Homo sapiens: one gene and its partners. The protein of the gene in region 1 purifies or fractionates together with the protein of each later gene. This does not show direct contact. Each region holds a gene or a part of one and is shown on either strand. Other genes may lie near its edges.

Region 1 (3,500 bases):
TTGTTAGAGACACAATACATTTCGTGTGCTTTAGTTGAGATGACTGCAATATGGAGCAGACCTATCCAAGACTCAGGGGTGAGGCTGAGATGTACTACTAGGAAAGCAGAGAAGTGTCTGGTTTACTGCTATATTCCCATTGCCTTACACAGTGCCTGGCTAGTGAATACTCAATATATATTTGTGGAATGGAATGAATAAGTAAAAGGTCTCACTCACTGAGTATCTATCTTTTAAAACTCACTCACAGGAATAAATGAACAGAAAGAGGTAAAGTGGAGGGTGATTTCTCATTCTTTTTCTCTTGAGCTCCACTCCAAAGTGACTTGTCTCAACCCAAACCACTATTCAGAGGAGAGGAGACACAGTCTGTAGATTCAGTACTCTGTGTGCTATTCTCAACCAGGTCTGCCTGGATTCTTAATTGCTTGCAGGTCAACGTTTCCGCAGCAGTCAATCTCTTCATTGAAAGTGGAAGTCAGGGCCGGGCGCGGTGGCTCACGCCTGTAATCCCAGCACTTTGGGAGGCCAAGGCGGGCGGATCACCAGGGCAAGAGATCGAGACCATCCTGGCTAACACGGTGAAACCCCGTCTCTACTAAAAATACAAAAAATTAGCCGGGCAGGGTGGTGGGCGCCTGTAGTCCCAGCTACTCGGGAGGCTGAGGCAGGAGAATGGCGTGAACCAGGGAGGCAGAGCTTGCAGTGAGCTGAGATCGTGCCACTGCACTCCAGCCTGGGAAACAGAGCGAAACTCCGTCTCAAAAAAAAAAAAAAAAAGTGGAAGTCAGTATTTTTACTAATAGTTACTAATAGTAATGAAGCCTGTTTTGTTACTAGTTGTAATGTTACTAATAATTAGTAATATTATTAGTAAAGTAGAAGTCTGTTTCATCAACTTCAGTTATTCAGTTATTCCTCCAACTCCAAACTTTGTCCGTGTTCTTTGGGAAATTCCTAGCTCTTTTTCTATCTTGATCTGTGGGCAAAACTGTCTACAGAAGGGTTAGACTTCAGAGCAACACTAATATAAGAGCATCCAATATAACCCAACTGGGTTTTCTTTGTACAGAACCCTCTAAATTAGGACCAGACTTCCAGTATAACAAATTGCTCTTTGAAAGACATGGCTAGGCATGACTAAATTATTTATTCTTATTAGAATAATAAATAGCATAAATTGTGCTGGAAGATGTAGCAAGAATGAGATTCCTGGGTGCTGAGGGGGCACTGGGGAGCTTTAGTGGGTTGCCTCAAGCAAGAATGAGATTCCTGGGTGCTGAGGGGTCACTGGGGAGCTTTAGTGGGTTGCCTGAAGACCCACCCACCTCACCACCACTTTGGCTTTAGTCATAGCGTTTATCCTTTCAACTGCTTTACATTTGGGGATCTCATGTTTAGATAATTTGGGAAAAAACGGATGCAAATAAACATTGAAAACTACTATCATAGAGGGAAGACCATAGATTTTGCTCATAAAGAGACCTCTTCAATATTCCACTTTCTAGTTATAACTTGATAATTACTTTTTAAAAACCAGCTTAGAGGCTGTGTTTCCTCATTTGTAAAACGGTGGTGTCTATCACATCAGGTTGGTGTGAGAAGGGGGCAAAGACTCCTCCACACAAGATATAAGCCATCCCTTTCCTCTCTTACGTTTATGGCTGAAATAGCTAATTTTTCCTGAGAATGGAAGTAGCCCGAGAATCTTTCCAGCACTATTCTCCAAGACAACAGAAATAGCACATGAATTGAAACACATTTACTCTCCCTTTCTTACAGTGGCAAAACCTTAAACCAGAAGGCGAAGTATGGAACAAGTGTTTAAATTGAATGACTCTTAGAAGTGTAGAAAATGGTTGTGTCATGTGACCACAAGCAGTTTAGCTTAAGGTAGCAGTTAATAAAAATCATTTCAATAGGAATTTATTAATAAAATAATGGCTAATAATAACTAACTGTATTGAGTGCCTACTATGTGTCAGGCAATGTGCTGTTCACCTCCCATGAATTAGTTCATTGAATCCTCTCAACAATCCTTTGAATGAAAGAGAGATCTAATCACAGAATTGCAGACTCTGAGGATCCTATTTTAGAATGGCCTTGTTGTATTTGTGATTATTTTTAGAAATAAAAATGTAGCTTTGGTATTTATATATTAAGTTTATTTTAGGAAATTTGTTCTGACAAGGGGATAAATTATGAAGAAACAGTAGACTCTTGGTATTAGTGAATTTAACATTTGATATTTTAGCCTTTGAAAGTAATATTTGTAAGTGATGTTGTAGGCCCATTATGTAAAATAATTTTTAATTGTGTTGAGTTACTATTTTGAATTTTGTGTGCTCAGAGCCTGGTGTCTGAAGTGCCACACATAGACAAGGAGCTCAGAAAGCTGCATAGCACTAACATTTCATTCCAGCTTTGTTGTTCTTTGCTTGTAGTCACAAATATATTTCATGAGAAAACCATATGGCTATTCAAGAATATGGTCATTCACAAGTGTCTTGGGTCATAGCAGGAGTTGATATTCACCTAGTGTGCACTGGTACAGCAGTTGTGGTTATTGAAAATATTGAAATATGTTTGTACTCATTAAGATATTGAAATAATTGGTCCAGGTATGGTGGCTTATGCCTGTAATCCCAGCACTTTGGGAGGCCGAGGTGGGTGGATCACTTGAGTTAGGAGTTTGTGACCAGCCTGACCAACATGGTGAAACCCCATCTCTACTAAAAATACAAAAATTAGCCAGGCGTGGTGACATGCACCTGTAATCCCAGCTTCTTGGGAGGCTGAGGCAGGAGAATCACTTGAACCTGGGAGGAGGAGGTTGCAGTGAGCTGCTGAGGTCGCACCACTGCACTCCAGCCTGGGTAACAGAGTGAGACTCCGTCTCAAAAAAAAAAAAAGAGATGTTGAAATAATTTATACGGTTGGTAAATAGCCATTGCCCAAGATGGATTAATATCTCTTTTCTTCTATGTCAACTCTAACCTATAAATTTTGCCAGATACAATGCAGGATGCCCACTTACATTTAAATATCAGATAAATTATAAATAATTTTCTAGCTTAAGTATGTCTCATACAATATTTAGTACATACTTAAACAAAAATTATTTGTGGTCTATCTGAAATTCAAATTTAACTGAGCGTCCTGTATTTTTATTTGCAAAATCTGACAACTCTACTTTACTAGGAACTCAGATCTATTTACAATCTAGCAGTAATGAGTAAAGGGCTGGACTCAGGGTCCCTGCAGGTCCTTACTGTAGGACCTTGGCCAGCCCAGCATTTATTCTGACTTGATGCACTTGTTGTACAAGTCATTAAATATTTTTAGCATATTTAATGTCATAGCAATAGTGAATGACAAGGATCTATCTACATTATATTCTTTCTAGTATTTGATAAGAACTCCACTACTTAGGAATTTTCTCATATTTAGCTTTTAAAGTACACTATTTTTCCATCATTGGGTTTGTTTTTACTCAAAGT
Region 2 (3,500 bases), on another chromosome or scaffold:
GTTTTAAAATTTATTATCACTAACTAAAAAAAAATGGATTTCTTCCCATCTCTTTTAAGATTTTTCTGATTACTCAGAGTTCATGTTTGCTTCATTATACGTCACCCAACTTGGGTTACAGTTGCCCATATATTTGTGTGGATGTCTGGATGCATGTGCATACACACAGCTTAACATTTACAACTCCATTTACAATGCATAGAATGACTTCCAAATTCCAGGCTCCCACACATGAGCAGTAGCGTATCTATCAAATATGCTTTTAATTTGAAGTTATCTCAATAACCATTTTATAAACAGAAATGTATCCCCCATATCAAGAGAGATCACTACTGTACCTGAATGTCAATTTTTTGTTGTTGGTGAAACTTCAAAAAGTTCAATGTATGTAATATCACAAGTAATTAAAAAAGGGAACATTTCAATTATGATAAACATAAACTGTGATGACATGGAATATAACTCATATTTTAATCTTAATGCCTTATTAATCTAGATTCAAATTATGGTTGAATTAGCTACAAGTCAGGTACCCAAATCAAGAACCTACTATTCATTCCAGCTTAATCTAGTTTAAATTCCTGTTGCATTTCAGGTTCAAAAAATTCACACAAGTGATTGTGACTTTGACTAGTGATACAATTATTGGTATTAACAACAATGGAAATCGTGAGCTTCTTCCTGCATACATTTTCACTTTCTCAATGTTTAAATGAAAATTTGTTCAGAATACAAAACAAAATAGCACATTGTAAGAACTAAGAATTTCCCTTTGGCTAGAATGGACAAGTAGAAAAACAAATATAAAAGTATACTTTGTTTTATGTATTCAATGATTTTATTCTATCTAATATTTATTAGATAAATTTGAGAACAGTGAGTTAAGTATTAATATAAAATTGATTAAGCTTTGTATCAATTAAGGGTCTGTCTTTTTATGCTATTATCTGCCCCTTATTTTCATAGTTGGCTCCTTGATTTGTTCACTGACAAAAGAGGTCTTCCTCTCCACTACTTTTACCCAATAAAAAATGGAAAATCCTGGACTAGAACACCTATAAAATCACCTTGTATTACAAAGTCTTCAACAGCAATGAGATATTTGTTTACTGCTCTGTATGTAAGAGAGACTATCTCATAGATCTTTCCAAACAGCTTCAGCCTGCTGCCTCCTGACTTTTGGGCATCTTGACTTCCTCTGGATTTTCTGGGAACTCTCCAATTACTGGTCTCCGTAACTACACCAAATGTAAACACTTCCTATGTATAAATGATTTGCAGGAGGGCATCTTAGGAGTGTGAGATGCATTCAGAATGTATCTTTTGGGCTTCCACATGAAATTTGCTAGCTTTTGCCTTCCCATTTTATACAATAAAGTAATACAAAGATTAGCTGGGCGTGGTTGTGGACGCCTGTAGTCCCAGCTACTCAGGAGGCTGAGGCAGGAGAATCACTTGAACCCAGGAGACAGGAGAATCACTTGAACCCGGGAGGCGGAGGTTGCAGTGAGCCGAGATCGCACCATTGCACTCCAGCCTGGAAACAGAGCAAGACTCCGTCTCAAAAAAAAAAAAAAAAAAAAAAAAAGGAAAGAAAAATGTTATCCTATCATCTCAAAGTACGGTGACTAATATAGGTTCAAGATTGATCAAAATGAACTCATGATGCATAATCAAGCAAACAAAACGTAAGATTACAGATTGAACCATTATAACATTTTTGCAAATATCACAGCAGAATTATTCCCATCAGGAAAAAGTAAACAACTAAGTAGGCATCTCTAGACAAAATAAGTAGGAAAAGCTTCTTTCCAAACAAACATAATGACTTAAAGTTATATCTACATGAGTTAATGTATATAAGTTGATCAGACATGAATGAGGCTCTCAGGAAAGCACAGAAGAGTGGGTAAATATTTAGTAACAGAAATGATTGTCACACTGCCATCTTTTGTGATCTTAAGGATAGAGTTGTGCCTTGTTATCTGATTGGCTTAAGTGATCCCTGGTTAAAGAAAGGAATATGGTTTAAATTCTCTAATAACAACATTTAGATAGTTTATAAATATTACAAATATACCTTTTTAGCATTTGGTTGATCAAAGCCCCAGTCAAAATATGTGTGTTCTTTTAATTTCCACACCTAAAATAAAGAAAGAATAGCAACATATAAATCAGATAGTTGTCAGTTCATGTACAGCTGGCATTATTTACTAATATGTTGAACAAAGTTTTTAGTAATTTCTAGTTTCCAACTGAAGTTCGTTTTTGTTTAAAAATAATTAGTGAATAACATCTCCTTAAAGTAAATTAATAACTTAATGCTATTTTACATAACTAGTTTTTCTTATTTATCAACTTCCTTACTTGACAGTTTTTTTGTTTGTTTTTTGAGACTGAGTTTTGCTCTTATTGCCCAGACTGGAGTGCAATGGCGCAATCTCGGCTCACGGCAACCTCCGCCTCCCAGGTTCAAGCGATTCTCCTGCCTCAGCCTCCCTAGTAGTTGGGATTACACGTATGTGCCGCCATGCCCAGCTAATTTTGTATTTTTAGCAGAGACAGGGTTTCTCCATGTTAGTCAGGCTGGTCTCAAACTCCCGACCTCAGGTGATCCGCCCGCCTCGGCCTCCCAAAGTGCTGGGATTACAGGCATGAGCCACCGTGCCCGGCACTTGACAGTTTTATCCTGGAGTTTTATCCTGCAGTAAAATTTCTTGAGTGAAAAATGAGTAAAAGAAAATTAATGTCAATAGCAAGCTAATGGTAGCACTGAAAAAACATACACTCTGTGATATTTGAATACACTTTGGATATTTGAAGAGTGTCTGGAAATTGATGTTTCATCCAAGTTTGGGGCCATTAAATAATTCTAAGAGTTAGCAAATAATTTTTTTATCTTTTAATATATAAATGTATATTTCTTCTGCCTTGAATCTTGTAGAAACTTAATCCCCATATCCCCATAGAAACCAACTAATTCGGCACAATTCCTTTTTTTTTTTTTTTTTTTTTTTTTTGGTGGAAGGGGAGAAGAGGAATGCTTAAGAGAAAATACCAGAACCTTGAGCTGTGTACAGAATAGCAATAGTATTTAAACACAAGTGGTTCTGGTTTCTGGCCCAGATATCTTTAAATAGAACTTGTAAATTCTTAACAAGTTTAGACAAATTCAAAAGTTGATTCCAAAACCAAATATAAACGACCTTTTTTTTAAATGTATACACACAAACACATATGTATACCCAGACTGTGTTATGATCATCAAGTGAATGCTATCCTGTGTTTCCTTACTTTCAGAAGTGAACCTGACTTGTATGTACCCTTGGTAAAAAAATATTGCAACTAGGGCAAATTTGGGAATTGTTACTCCTAGCTAAGTAAATCTTCCTTCCCAATGGACAATAAGATCCTGAATCAATGCAGGGATGCAGGTCAATTCATGAAACATTTATAAAGAACCTAGTTTATGTCTGTCACTGGCTGGCAAATACTGGATT
Region 3 (3,500 bases), on another chromosome or scaffold:
TTGAATGAAATAATGATCTCTGGAGGAAAGGAAGAGCAAAGGAAGCAGCACGCTAACATTTATTAAGTGTTAATGTACTTGGTATTGTTCCAGGTATTTTACATACAACATACATTTAATTTTCACAATTGTAATACACATCACATCCAGGTAACTTCACTAAGGTCAAAACAATTCCTAAGAACCAGTGTCTGTAGTGTACATAAAGGATACAGTACGGACAGTCAGGAGGGGCACTCACATTTTATGGAAAACACTTCAAACTCTTTACTACATCCAAGCTGTAATAAAAATCTTAAATGACTCTAGAAATAATAATAGCCAACATTATACATTTATACTACCCCTATGGGCCAGACACTATGCCAATGTTTTACATGGATGATCTCATTTAATCTTCAAGCAACCTCATAAAGCAGAACCTATTTTCTACTAGATTGGAACAGAGAAAATGGAGGCTTAGAGAGGCTGGGTAACTTTTCTGAGGTCATAAAGCAACTTTTGGGAGAAAAAGACCAGATGTAGGTTTGTGTGACTCTGAAGCACAGGTTCTTAAAAACTCCAGTACACTTGTGGGTATTTTTTTGTACTCAGGCTCTCATTAGCGGTACAATTTTATAGTGACAAGGTATGTTAATTTCTTCCATAGATAACTGATGCATAAAAGCTTAGAAGCTGTAATAATTTAATAGTTCACATGAACAACCCTAACTGACAGTATTCACCAAAGTTGAAGAAGGCAAATCAGTCAGTTGTATTAAAGAAAGAATCAGATTTCCTTACAATTTCCCTCTTACTCTCAAATGAGACTCATATACCAAGTATCTTCTGAGGGGAAACAACAACAACAACAAAAAAAAACAACTCAGTAGCTAGAAGATTACTTGACGTGATAACAATTTTGTGAACTCGCTGTGGTCAAAGTTAAGTATTTGACACACCGGCAATTTTGCAATCTGAAAGGACTCTGGTGTCATTCTTCTGCCGATTTGGGATCCGAACCCTAACTGAGAATACCATAAAGATGTAGATGTAGATTTTTATGATGCCTTAAGAGAGATGCTTTAAGAGATAACTTGGAATCAAGGTTAACATCAAAGGTGTTAAAGATGATGTATTTGACATAAACGTCCTTACCTGACTACAGGTTGAAACCTGAATCTCTTTAGGTAGATGTAAATGGACAGGCATGAAGTTAATGAATGAACTGAAAGTAAGTTAATTAAATTATCCTATCATTTGCTGATGCTTATGTAATGTGGTTGGCCAGGGAATATCTGTATGAATAAAACAGGATGCCTGAATGAGGTTGACGGTCTTGATGAAGCCAATGTCAGCCTTTGGATGCGAAAATTAGAATCAAATCCAGTTGTAGCATGATGGAATTCCAGAAAGTATTTAGAAACTTATGAACTTTGTGTATAAAGTCTGCTTAAGAATCAGTTTAGTTTTCCCCTACGAATCTGCTTATGATTTCCATTTGTTGTTTCCCTACACTGATTTTACCGGTGTCTTTTATGTTCTGTTATACTATGCTGTGCCGTGTTATTTTATATTATGTTAGACTTGTGTACATCCTATGAATTTCTATAAGTATTTTGTGGATGTAATGATTTTATAGATAAAAAGAGAGATTTAAAACTAGGTTAATCCAACAGCCATTCATGATAAAATAAAATAAGTCAAATTAGGAATAGAGAGGAACACCTTCCAACGATAATTAGAGTCAACAAAAAACACAGAGCTAGCAATGCTGAACAGTAAAAGACTAAATGTTTTTCCCATAAAATCCAGAAAATGGGTGTGCACTCACACCACTCTTATTCAACATAGTACAGCAAGTTCTAACCACTGCAATAAAGTAAGAAAAAGAAAAAAAAGGCATACAAATTGAATATGAAGAAATAAAAAGGTCTCTATTTAGAGACAACAATATTGTTTACATAGTGAACTCTAAGAGACCTATCCAAAAAAAAAAAAGAAAACTCTCCTAGAAATAAAAAGTACATTGAGCAAATTAGCAGGATACAAGATTCATCAGTAATACAAAAAATCAGTCACATTTCTATATAGAAACAATGAACATGCTGAAACTGAAATTAAAGGCGCAATGCTATTGACAATCACTCCAAAGAAACTGAAATACTCAGGCATATAGTTTAAAAACATGTACAGGATCTGTATGCTGAAAATTACAAAATGGCATTCAAAATATCAAGGAAGACCTAAGTAAATGTAAACGCTTAGTGTTCATGGATTTTAAGACTCCACATAATAATGATGTCAATCCTTCACAAATTGATCTATAGGCCTAATGTTATTCTTACCAAAATCACAGTAAGGTTTATTATAGACATATACAGGCTTATTGCAAAATTTATATAGTGAGGCGCAGGCCCTGGAATAGCTAAAATAATCTTGACAAACAAGCATAAAGTGGGGGGAATCACTCTACCTGATACTAAGGTTTACTACATAGCTAACGTGATTAAAACAGATTGGTACTATTGAAGGATAGACACAGATCAATAGACCCAATTTCCCCCAGTAGTGGCAACTTTGTAAAATTACAGTATAGCTTAACATATTAATGTATAGTACAGTATAGCACTGAACACCACAACCAGGATATTGGCATTGATATAATCCACCTATTTTATTCGTATTTTCTCAGTTTTACTTGTACTCGTGTGTGTGTGCATTTAGTTCTATAAAATTTTATCACATGTGTAAATTCATACATCTGCTATCACAATCAAGATGCTGTATAGTTCCACCAAAAACATCCTTCAAGTTGCCCTTTTATAATACACTCTTCTCCTGCCCACATCATCCCCTCTTCACCCTATCTGTAACCAACGGCAATGCCAAATCTAAAATTTTGTCATTTCAAAAATTTTATATAAATGGGATCATACAGTATAAAGCCTCTTAGGGTTTTTCACTCAGCATGATTCCCTGGAGCTTCATCCAAGTTGTTGTATGTATCAATAGTTTGTTCCTTTTTATTGCTGAGTAGTATTAGTTGGTACAGATGTACAACTTGTTTAACCAGTCACCTGTTGAAAAGCATCTGGGCTGATTCTAGTGTTTGTTTATTCAAATAAAACTGCTGTGGACATTCAGGTACAGGTTTTCATGTGAATACAAAACTTCATTTTTCTGGAATAAATACCTATGAATGCAATTGCTGACTCATATGGTAGTAGTATATTTGGTTTTGTAAGAAACTACTAAACTCTTTTCCAGAGTGCTGTACCATTGCATGTACCCACCCCCATGCTCCAGCAATGTAAATGATCCAGTTTCTAGCCAGTCCTTCGTATAAGTTCTTTGTATCGTATATTGTAATCCAATCCTTTGGATTCCCAGGGCATTGCACAAGGCCTGGTATAGCCCACTTATAACATAAATGTATACTGCTTTAAAATATATTTGTGTGAAGTTTAAAACTGGCAAAGAGAAAGAGTGAGGATAAGTGTTTGTACCTTAGGTTAGGG
Region 4 (3,642 bases), on another chromosome or scaffold:
TTTAGCTATTCTCTTGCTTTGGGACTTTCTTCTTCCAGATAACTGCTTGGCTAACTTCTTTGTCTCCAAGTCTTTGTTCAAATCTAACCTTAATGAGGACTATGCTGACCACCCTATTTAAAACTGCAACCTACATCCCTTCCACACAAACATACTCTGATTCCCCTTACCTCTGCTTTTTCTTTTGTTTTCATAGAACGTACCACCTTCTAACATACTCCATAACTTGCTGATTTATTCTGTTTATTGCTTATTGTCTGCCTTCCTGTGGTGGTTTTAAAATACGCCCACAAATTCTTTGCTACTCCTTCCTTCAAGAGGTGGAATTTAATCCTTTCCCCTTCGGTGTGGCCTGAACTTAATGACTTGTTTCTTGTTTTTTGTTGTTGTTGTTGTTTTGGTTTTTGTTTTTGTTTTTGTTTTTGAGACTCAATTCTGTCTCGCAGGCTGGAGTGCTGTGGCACGATCTCAGTTCACTGCAACTTCCGCCTCCCGGGTTGAAGTGATTCTCCTGCATCAGCCTCCCCAGTACCTGAGATTACGGGCGCATGCCACCACACCCGGCTAATTTTTTGTATTTTAAGTAGAGACAAGGTTTCACCATGTTGACTAGGCTGGTCTCGAACACCTGACCTCAAGTGATCCACCCGCCTCGCCCTCCCAAAGTGCTGGGATTACAGGCATGAGCCACCACACCTGGCCTAATGACTTGTTTCTAATGAATAGACTACGGTAGAAGCGACAAGGTGTGACTTCCAAGACTAGGTCATAAAAAACATTGCAAGAGGAGAAAAAAGCATTGTGTTTTCCTTGTTGTCCTCTCTCCTGAATCACGCAATCTGGGGGAAGCCACCTACCAAGTATGAAGACATACAAGCAGCCTTATGGAGAGGTTCATATGGTGAGGAACTGAGGCCTCATGTCAAAAACCAGCAAAGACCTAAGGCCTCCCGCCAATAGCCAGGTAAGTGAACCACCTTGGAAACTGCTCCTTCAGACCTAAGTTAAGCCTTTAAACTACTACATCCCCAGACACCATATTGACTACAACTTCATGAGACACCCTGAGCCAGAACTACCCATCTAAGCTGCTCCCAAATTATTGAGTCATAGGAAATGTGAGATAATAAATGTTTGTTGCTTTAAGCCACTAAATTTTGGGGTTATTTGTTACACTGCAATAATTAAGTAATACACTTCCCACTAGAATAAAAACTCCATGAAGATAGGACTCTGTTTTTTCACTGATATTAGGCTGAACCACATGAAATCATCATAGTCAAACACCGGCAATTTCATATAAATCAATCTAATATATCCCATGGAAACAGTGGTTCCTCTGGTGAGGGGAAATGAGTGGTTAGGGAATAAGGGTGGGAAAAAGAATTTTCAGCGTATAACCTTTTGTACCTTTTACTTCAAATGGTATAAAAAGTATTGCAGCCCACCGCCATGGCCGCCTACAAACTGGTGCTGATCCGGCACGGCGAGAGCACATGGAACCTGGAGAACCGCTTCAGCTGCTGGTACGACGCCGATCTGAGCCCGGCGGGCCACGAGGAGGCGAAGCGCGGCGGGCAGGCGCTACGAGATGCTGGCTATGAGTTTGACATCTGCCTCACCTCAGTGCAGAAGAGAGTGATCCGGACCCTCTGGACAGTGCTAGATGCCATTGATCAGATGTGGCTGCCAGTGGTGAGGACTTGGCGCCTCAATGAGCGGCACTATGGGGGTCTAACCGGTCTCAATAAAGCAGAAACTGCTGCAAAGCATGGTGAGGCCCAGGTGAAGATCTGGAGGCGCTCCTATGATGTCCCACCACCTCCGATGGAGCCCGACCATCCTTTCTACAGCAACATCAGTAAGGATCGCAGGTATGCAGACCTCACAGAAGATCAGCTACCCTCCTATGAGAGTCCGAAGGATACTATTGCCAGAGCTCTGCCCTTCTGGAATGAAGAAATAGTTCCCCAGATCAAGGAGGGGAAACGTGTACTGATTGCAGCCCATGGCAACAGCCTCCAGGGCATTGCCAAGCATGTGGAGGGTCTCTCTGAAGAGGCTATCATGGAGCTGAACCTGCCGACTGGTATTCCCATCGTCTATGAATTGGACAAGAACTTGAAGCCTATCAAGCCCATGCAGTTTCTGGGGGATGAAGAGACGGTGTGCAAAGCCATAGAAGCTGTGGCTGCCCAGGGCAAGGCCAAGAAGTGAAGGCCAGCGGGGAGGATACTGTCCCCAGGAGCACCCTCCCTGCTGGTCTTGTCCCTCTGCCCCTCCCACCTGCACATGTCACACTGACCACATCTGTAGACATCTTGAGTTGTAGCTGCAGATGGGGACCAGTGGCTCCCATTTTCATTTTAGCCATTTTGTCGCCTGCACCCACTCCCTTCATACAATCTAGTCAGAATAGCAGTTCTAGAGCACAGGTTCTCAGTCTAAGCTGTGGAAAAGCTCCCCTTATCCAACAGAGTTTAAAAGTAGTGACTTGGGTTTTTGTGAGTGCTTTGTTTACTAAGGACTTTGGGGAGGAACATGCTAAGCCACGACCAATGAGGAGAAGCAACAGAGCCTGTCTGTCCCCATGAGCAGAGTCTGTCCTCTGCTCTTCTGCAGTCAGGCCACTGCCTGGGGGCTCTAGTCATTCCAGTGGAAGATGAATGTAATCTGCATGGTGATGTGACAACTGTTTCCTCCTTGACCCCAGAGGATCTGGCTCTAGGTTGGGATCAATCCTGAATTTCGTTATGTGTTATATTTACTTTTATTAAAAAAGTATAGTATATATTAATAATACAAAACAATAACCCTTCTGGGGTTTCTTGTGGCGGTTGAAATAGTCCCACATGTGGTCATCAGAAAATAAGCCATTCCTCATACCAATATAGGATCAGCTCCTTGACCTCTGAGGGGCAGGAGTGCTTCCTGGTGTGTGTATTAGAATCCCTTCCTGCCTTGTTTCATGGCAGTGAAATGCCTCTTGGTCCTGTCCAAGTGTGTCTTTCACTGATTTCTGAATCATGTTCTAGTTGCTTGACCCTGCCACATGGGCCCAGTGTTCATCTGAGCATAACTGTACTAAATCCTTTTACCAGATCAGTATAATAAAGGAGTGATGTGCAATTAAAAAAAAAAAGTATTACAACATCATTTTAGTTTTGGTGAGCTCAGAGAAACTTAAGCAGAAAATGCTGAACCATGCCCGCTGCTACTAACAAAGCAAGATGATTAATGGACTCTTGTAACTTCTCCAACTAATTTCTGTGGAGCTTTGAACAATTAGACCACCCAGTCTATGGTATTATGTTATGGAAGCCTGAACTAAGACATATGCATTCTTTTTTAAATTGGGATATAATTCACATGCTATAAAATTCAGCCTTTTAACCTACAGAATGGGAGAAAACATTTTGCAATCTACCCATCTGACAAAGGTCTAATATCCAGAATCTACAAGGAACTTAAACAATTTACAAGAAAAAAACAACCCCATCAAAAAGTGGGCAAAGGATATGAATAGACATTTCTCAAAAGAAGACATTTATGCGGCCAACAAACATATGAAAAAAAGCTCAACATCACAGATCATCAGAGAAATGCAAATCAAAACCACAATGAGATACCATCTCACACCAG
Region 5 (3,500 bases), on another chromosome or scaffold:
CTACTTTTTAATGGTTTGCTGCTGGATTTCATACTATTGTATCTTTTTTGAATTTTTCCTTGTTTTTTGAACAGTATTTTAAATCTTTTACTTCTGTTTTAGATTATGATATTAAGTGTATATTTGTTAAAATTAAAAATCGGTTTGTGATTTGAGTTTTCTGTTAGCTAATTTTATTCAGTGAATTTTTTGTGATTAAGTAATATACTAGTAAATAGTATAGTCAAAGACCGGATAAATTTATATCATTGGAAGTACATTCCATTTGTTAGCATTTTTCATAATCCCATCCCCCCTTTTTAATTTTGCAAACCATGTCTAGTATGAGATTGTTTATCAGTAAACATTCCAAAGTCACCTTTTAACTTAGAAGTATTATATATGAAAACAAATCATGACACATTTTTAAAATTTATAGCAGAAATCTTGAGTCAGACGGTATACATATATAAAATAAAGTTTATTTTTGTTTAACTGACATGAAATCCTAGGATTACTAATCTTAATGAAACATAAAAAAGACGAAATGAATTTACTTTTTTCTTACTTTATAGTAGTCTGAACTTTTGGAATACAAAATGCTTATGGTTTCATGTAATTTTAATCTAGTAGCTAAAGATTTTCATAATTTAGGGAAGTAAGTTGCTAGTAACTAGTCTTAGAGTAACAGATTATCTTTCCTAACAAGAAGAAACAATCAGTAGCAGTGATTTCATAAAGTAATAGATTGTATAAGTGGTGGTGTTCTGTTACACTTAAAACAACTAACTACATGTCATCTTAGAACAGGCTGCTTCATAGTTTATAGTGGAACAGTTTCCATATTCTAGAAAATTAGAAAAGCTTTTGATAAAAGAGAACTAGAAAATTTGTCAGTAGGCTATATTAAAAGACATCCTTCTTGGACTCTTACTGCAATAATTGCTTTGGCTTTTGAATATACTGCATTCAGAAGCTAAATCTTCCCTGTAAGTTAACTTTGTTAATTAACAAAAGTTGTAAATAGATCTATTTAGCAGCCAAATAGAAACTTGGGCAAATCTTAGGAAAGTATTGCAAATCTGCAGGGGTATCTTTTCTCGGTTTCCCATCATCTGCTTCCATTCCTTCCTTTCCTCTCTCCTTTTCCTTCTCCCTTCTGTCTGTCTGCCTATCTTGAGTTAAATTTGTTAAGCATATTTTTTTTTTCAGTGGTTGAGGAGAGGATTAGATCACCTTTTCTTTTGGTTAACAGGAGAAATGGTAGAACAAGTACTTTTGATACTCCAAAATCAATGTATTCAAATATAACCACCTTATGGAACGTTTGGTGCTTTTCCAAACACTCTAATATTCATTATGTCATTTGATTTTCGCACCAACCTATCTAAGTAGTTTGGGCAGATGGTATTATTTTCATTTCACAAGTGAGGAAGCTGAAACAGAAGGGTAAAGTAACATGCCCCAGGTTGTCTAGTCATCCACCTGGTTCCTAGTCCTATTGACTACTCCCTAACACCTGCTTCCTGCTCACGCTATTTCAAAAAGGTTGTTAGTACATAAAACTTTCCCAATTTTATAATGCGTTTCTTTAACATCATTATTTCATGTTGTCTTCTAACTTTGGTGAAATAGTCTTTCTTAATTTAAAGATAACGTAATTTTTTGCAGGTGCCATTGTTATAGAACGACCAAATGTGAAATGGAGTGACGTTGCTGGACTTGAAGGAGCCAAAGAAGCACTGAAAGAGGCTGTGATACTGCCTATTAAATTTCCTCATCTTTTTACAGGTGACATAACTTTTAAATAATTTTATTTCATGAGTTTGTAAAAGTTCATTGATGACTGAGGTGAAGCATTGTCATTCTTGTCACTAATGAATTATCTTAAATAAATTGTGACTGTTAAAAGGTGGTGATATATCTTTATACAAGATGTTTTATTTCTTATACATATCCATATTTGCAGTGTATATATATTGCAAAACAACCTAAATGTCAACCAGTAGGGTAATTCACCAACATGCAGTGGAATACTATGCACTCAGTAAAATAGAGTGTACATCTACATTAATAAATTGAAATCTGCATTGTATTTTATTGAAGAATGTCCACATCTATTGCAAAGATCAAAAAGCAGTTATAAACTGAATAGTATGATTCCATGTTTGCTAAATGTGTATGCTGAGAAGTAAGTATAGTTAGATTCACATAGAAATATTAATATATGCCTAGGGGATAAGATTATAGGAGATTTTTACTTTTGACTTTCATCTGAATTTTTGCAATGGTTATGATTTTTAAAGAGTATTTCTTAAAAAGAGGAGTAAGAATCACTTAACAGTTTCAGAGGAAGTGCATAACCTCTAGTAGCAAAAGGACATTTCATTATCACTGTGAAGAGAATATTGCTGACCTACCATCTGGGGAAACTTACAAGTTCTAGTTCCAGCAGTAAGTGATATGTCTGTGCTAAACCATTCCTTTATATTATCCTTCTTGTGACTGATAGCCTTGACTGTAATATGGCCACACCCACAGTCTGACAGTCAGAGGTTTTTCCTTTTGCAAACATGTTGGTTTATGTCAACAGCAAATCTGCAATGTTGGCCTCAGACTGAAGAGTCCAGACAGTCGTATCGTATAGAGCAGTGATGAAGAGCAAAAAGCCTGTAGGCCACGCACTGTCCGCCTAGCTTCAAGGTGCAGTTTACTACCCAACTTCAGGAGTATGAAACTTAACAGCATAAAAGTTGACATCATAATCCTATAAAAGCACAAAAATATGGTTGAACTCATTTTATGGTATATTACTTATACCACTTTTTCTCAAACATGAGTCATTGATGTATCATCTTCATGAATTTTTCCATGTATGTGTACCATTACTAATTTTTAATATTTTTCTTTGCTTATTTTTTAGAACAACATTTTTACTAGAGTATAGCATAAATATACAGAGACATACAGGAGCCCCTGGGTGTTGGGCTTCCTTAATTGTCACAAAGCAAGCATGCCAGTGTCATCAACCAGATCCAGAAATAACAGCATTGCCAGGGACCTGGCAGGAGCCTTCTGCCTCATTCCTCCCGAGAGGTCATCTCTCTCTCTCGACTTCTAACGCCAGAGATTATTTTGCCTGTATTTGAACTTTAAATCATCTCACATATTTTTACTTAGTAACGTTATTGAAAAGACTGCTTTGTGCCTTTATAAGTGGAAAAAAAAGTGTTTTTCCAATACACATTAAAAAATTATTTAAAGTATATACCACCTAAAAGTACTTCATGTTATACCAGTGGTATATGTACCATACTCAGACACTGACTTGTAAATGTATACATGTAAAATAGGAAAATGAAATTCAAGTAACAGTTGCTTTCATAACAGTTAAGTGAAACAGTGTTATTCATCTGCATATCATTCTTTTGCAGATACTGTGTACACATCCATAGTTTGCACCTAGCAGTTTTTTTTGTTTTGTTTTGTTTTGTTTCTTTTTTTGAGACAGAGTTTCACTC
Region 6 (3,500 bases), on another chromosome or scaffold:
GCTCATTTTGTTTTTTTATTTTTTTGTAGAGAGGATGGTCTTGCTATATTGCCCAGGCCGGTTTTGAACACCTGGCCTCAAACAGGCTTCCCACCTTGGCCTCCCAAAATACTGGGATTACTGGCATGAGCCACTGCAACTTTGTGTTAAGCAAAACGGAAATGTGCCAAAAGGTTAGAAGTGGTTCCCTCTAGAAGAGGAATTATTAGGCCTTCTTTCCTGAGTACTTCTAATTTCTACATTGTTCATGCTTTGAACATTTTAGTAATATAAATGAGATATACCTACTCCTTTTTTGAACAGTAGATATATATATATAGTATATATATTTATCCTATATATACTATTTATATTATATATACTATTTATACTATATATAGTATGTATATAGTATATATACTGTATATAGTAGATATATACTATGTATATAATATATATGGTATGTATAGTAGTATATATACTATATATAATATATATGGTATGTATATAGTAGTATATATACTATGTATATACTATGTATATATACATATATACTATGTATATACTATGTATATATACTCTATATAGTATATTGAACAGTAGGTATATATATAGTATATATATTTTGAGCGCTTGCTGTGTTTTCAGCTGTTGGGCTAAATCTTTTGAGTACGTTATTTTTCCAATGAAACCCTGTCTGCTAGGCAGAGGAAGGTAATGCTACCTACCTAATTATGAAGATCTTTCAGAATAATCCGTATTAACTGACTTGGTTTAGTCCCTGGTATTTATTAAATCTCAAATGGCAGCTTCCATGATCATCATCATTGTTCATTCTTATCTTGCTTCTGTATATGAGAGAGTTGGACAAAGGAAGGCGGTAATTTGCCTGGTGTCATGTGGCAAATAGGTGTCATAACCTGGATTTCATCCCTGATCTTTCTGACTTCAAAGCTCATTATTATACTCTCCCCAGAGGGGCATGTCAGTGGAGCTTCTGACAACTTGATCTCTTCACCTTATCCCTAAGGGCCCCCCACACCAAGCCACCAAACACAAGCTTGTAAAAACGCGACCAGCCAGGTTTTTGGTTGTTTGTCAGGAGCTTCTTCTGAAGTTCATTACTGTTTGGCAGTTGGAATAATTTGGCAGAGGGTAAAAATAAGAAAATTGTTTGGATGAATGAAGATTTAAGAAACCAAATGACAAAGATATTGAAAATGAAAGTGAAATTGAAAATGAAAATGAAGGCTGGGTGCGGTGGCTCACGCCTATAATCCCAGCACTTTGGAAGGCGGAGGCAGGCAGATCACGAGGTCAAGAGATCGAGACCATCCTGGACAGTATGGTGAAACCCCGTCTCTACTAAAAATACAAAAATCAGCTGGGCATGGTGGCGCGCACCTGTAGTCCCAGCTACTCGGGAGGCTGAGGCAGGAGAGTCGCTTGAACCTGGGAGGGGGAGGTTGCAGTGAGCTGAGATCGTGCTACTGCATTCCAGCCTGGGCAACAGAGCAAGACTCCATCTCAAAAAAAAAAAAAAAAAAGAAGAAAAATGAAATAGAAAATGAAAAATACTTCCATTTTCATTTAATATTGAATTAATACCAAAGAACATTTAAACATATACACATACATATATAGATATAAAATGTAAGGAATATTACAGTGAACACTTATAAATCACCTAGTTTTTAAAACACATTATCCTGTCTCTTTCACCCTCAGAATCATTAACCTGAATTTTTACTTCTTTGCTTTCTGTGTAGTTTTTCCACATATGCTCAGTCCCTAAATAATATTTAGTTTTCTATGAAATGCAATTGTACATTATGTATTTTACTGCAATTGTTTTCAACAAATGTATATGTTCTTGAGGTTATCCAGATGGTGATGGGAGTAACCAATTTCTGCCAAAATATATTTAGAGGTTTGTTCTGGGCCAATATGATAGTGACTGCAGCCTGTGGTTACACGATCTCAAACAACCCTGACAAAGTGCACCCCAGGTGGTCAGGTTACAGCTTGGTTTTATACATTTTAGATACAGGAATTACATGCAAGGTATACATTGATCTCACTCAAAAGGTAGGACATCTTAAAGAGGGGGTTACAAGTCATAGGTGGGTTTTAAGGATTCTTCAGCTGGTAGTTGGTTGATAGAGGTAAGCTATGGTAAGTAGAAAGGAATGCTTGAGTTAAGGGGCTTGTGAAGGCCAAGGTTCTTGTTAAGTTAATTGAAGCCTCCTAGGTAGCAGCCCTCAGAGGGAAGAGATACTAAATGTCACTTTTTAGACTTTAATGTTATCAGGCTCTCAGTTAATCTCTCCTGGATCCAGGAAAGGCCTAGAAAGGAAGGCCTGGTTGCATTAATGGAGATTCTTGACAGATGCATATTTCCCCTAGGAAACATGGCTTTGTGGGGCCATTGAAATCCGTTGGCCATGTGGCAGCCATTTCAAAATGTCAAATATATTTTGGGGTAAAATATTCTGATTTCCTTCTGAGTCTGCTATTTGTCATAAGATGCCATACCAGAGTCAGGTTGGAAAGTAAGTCGTATTATATAGGGTTAATAAAAACCTGTCCAGTGAGATTTCGTAATTAGTAAGGCATGACTCCCCAGGCCTCTTAGTGAAGAACTTGGAGAAGAGAGAAAATATAAAAAAGATCAGCGTTTAGTCTTCACATATTATTGTATGAGCTGTAATTTACTCATTTCGCTGCATTCCACTGTATAACTATACTGTAATTTCTTCATTCTATAGTAACTATATGATAATTTCTGATAGTAGACCTTTGGGTTGTTTCCAGATATTTTATTCCTTTTTTTTTTTTTTTTTTTTATGAGATGGAGTCTCACTCTGTCGCCCAGGCTGGAACGCAGTGGTGCAATCTCGGCTCACTGCAGCCTCTGCCTCCCGCGTTCAAGCGATTCTCCTGCCTCAGCCTTCCAAGTAGCTGGGATTACTGGTGGGCGCCACCATGCCCAGCCAATTTTTATATTTTAGTAGAGATGGGGTTTCACCGTGTTGGCCAGGCTGGTCTTGAACTTCTGACCTCAAGTGATCCGCCCACATTGGCCTCCCAAAGTGCCAAGGGATTACAGGGATGAGCCACTGCGCCCACCTGTTTCTTATCTCTAACAGTGCTATGACAAAGATTGTTCATGTTTCATGGGGCCCATTTGCAAGAGTTTCTAGGATATAATTGCTAGGTCATAAGGCAAGTACCATGCTAAGTTGTACTAGGTAATGCTCTAAATTTAATTTTCCAAAGTGGTTGCGCTGATGTATGCACTTACCATTAGTGTGTAAATGTCCTAATTACACCATATTTTCACCAATCACCAAAATTTGATATAGTCAGGATTTTAAATTTTGGCCATCTTGTCAATATAAAAATGATATACTGTGAGTATATATTTAACTTTAAAAAATGATGTTCTTATGGCCAGGCATGGTGGCTCATGTCTGTAATCCCAGTACTTTGGGCGACCAGGGCAGGCAGATTGCTTGAGC

What was found.
Region 2: the proteins of GRXCR1 (region 1) and KLHL24 purify together in Homo sapiens (affinity purification with mass spectrometry; one large-scale study listed by BioGRID and IntAct). This does not show direct contact.
Region 3: the proteins of GRXCR1 (region 1) and SCIN purify together in Homo sapiens (affinity purification with mass spectrometry; one large-scale study listed by BioGRID and IntAct). This does not show direct contact.
Region 4: the proteins of GRXCR1 (region 1) and PGAM4 purify together in Homo sapiens (affinity purification with mass spectrometry; one large-scale study listed by BioGRID and IntAct). This does not show direct contact.
Region 5: the proteins of GRXCR1 (region 1) and VPS4B purify together in Homo sapiens (affinity purification with mass spectrometry; one large-scale study listed by BioGRID and IntAct). This does not show direct contact.
Region 6: the proteins of GRXCR1 (region 1) and CARNMT1 purify together in Homo sapiens (affinity purification with mass spectrometry; one large-scale study listed by BioGRID and IntAct). This does not show direct contact.

What each region holds. Positions count from the first base shown.
Region 1 is NC_000004.12:43,025,213-43,028,712, forward strand, and holds part of GRXCR1 (glutaredoxin domain-containing cysteine-rich protein 1), read left to right. Parts: intron 1-3,500. UniProt on the Homo sapiens protein: May play a role in actin filament architecture in developing stereocilia of sensory cells.
Region 2 is NC_000003.12:183,642,123-183,645,622, reverse strand, and holds part of KLHL24 (kelch-like protein 24), read right to left. Parts: intron 2,717-3,500; exon of another isoform or gene 2,368-2,716; intron 2,144-2,367; 5' UTR 2,081-2,143; intron 1,538-2,080; exon of another isoform or gene 1-1,537. UniProt on the Homo sapiens protein: Necessary to maintain the balance between intermediate filament stability and degradation, a process that is essential for skin integrity.
Region 3 is NC_000007.14:12,573,720-12,577,219, reverse strand, and holds part of SCIN (scinderin), read right to left. Parts: intron 1-3,500. UniProt on the Homo sapiens protein: Ca(2+)-dependent actin filament-severing protein that has a regulatory function in exocytosis by affecting the organization of the microfilament network underneath the plasma membrane.
Region 4 is NC_000023.11:77,967,449-77,971,090, reverse strand, and holds PGAM4 (phosphoglycerate mutase 4), read left to right. Parts: upstream 1-1,452; coding exon 1,453-2,217; 3' UTR 2,218-3,142; downstream 3,143-3,642.
Region 5 is NC_000018.10:63,401,977-63,405,476, reverse strand, and holds part of VPS4B (vacuolar protein sorting-associated protein 4B), read left to right. Parts: intron 1-441; exon of another isoform or gene 442-1,650; coding exon 1,651-1,770; exon of another isoform or gene 1,771-2,746; intron 2,747-3,500.
Region 6 is NC_000009.12:75,018,294-75,021,793, reverse strand, and holds part of CARNMT1 (carnosine N-methyltransferase), read left to right. Parts: intron 1-3,500.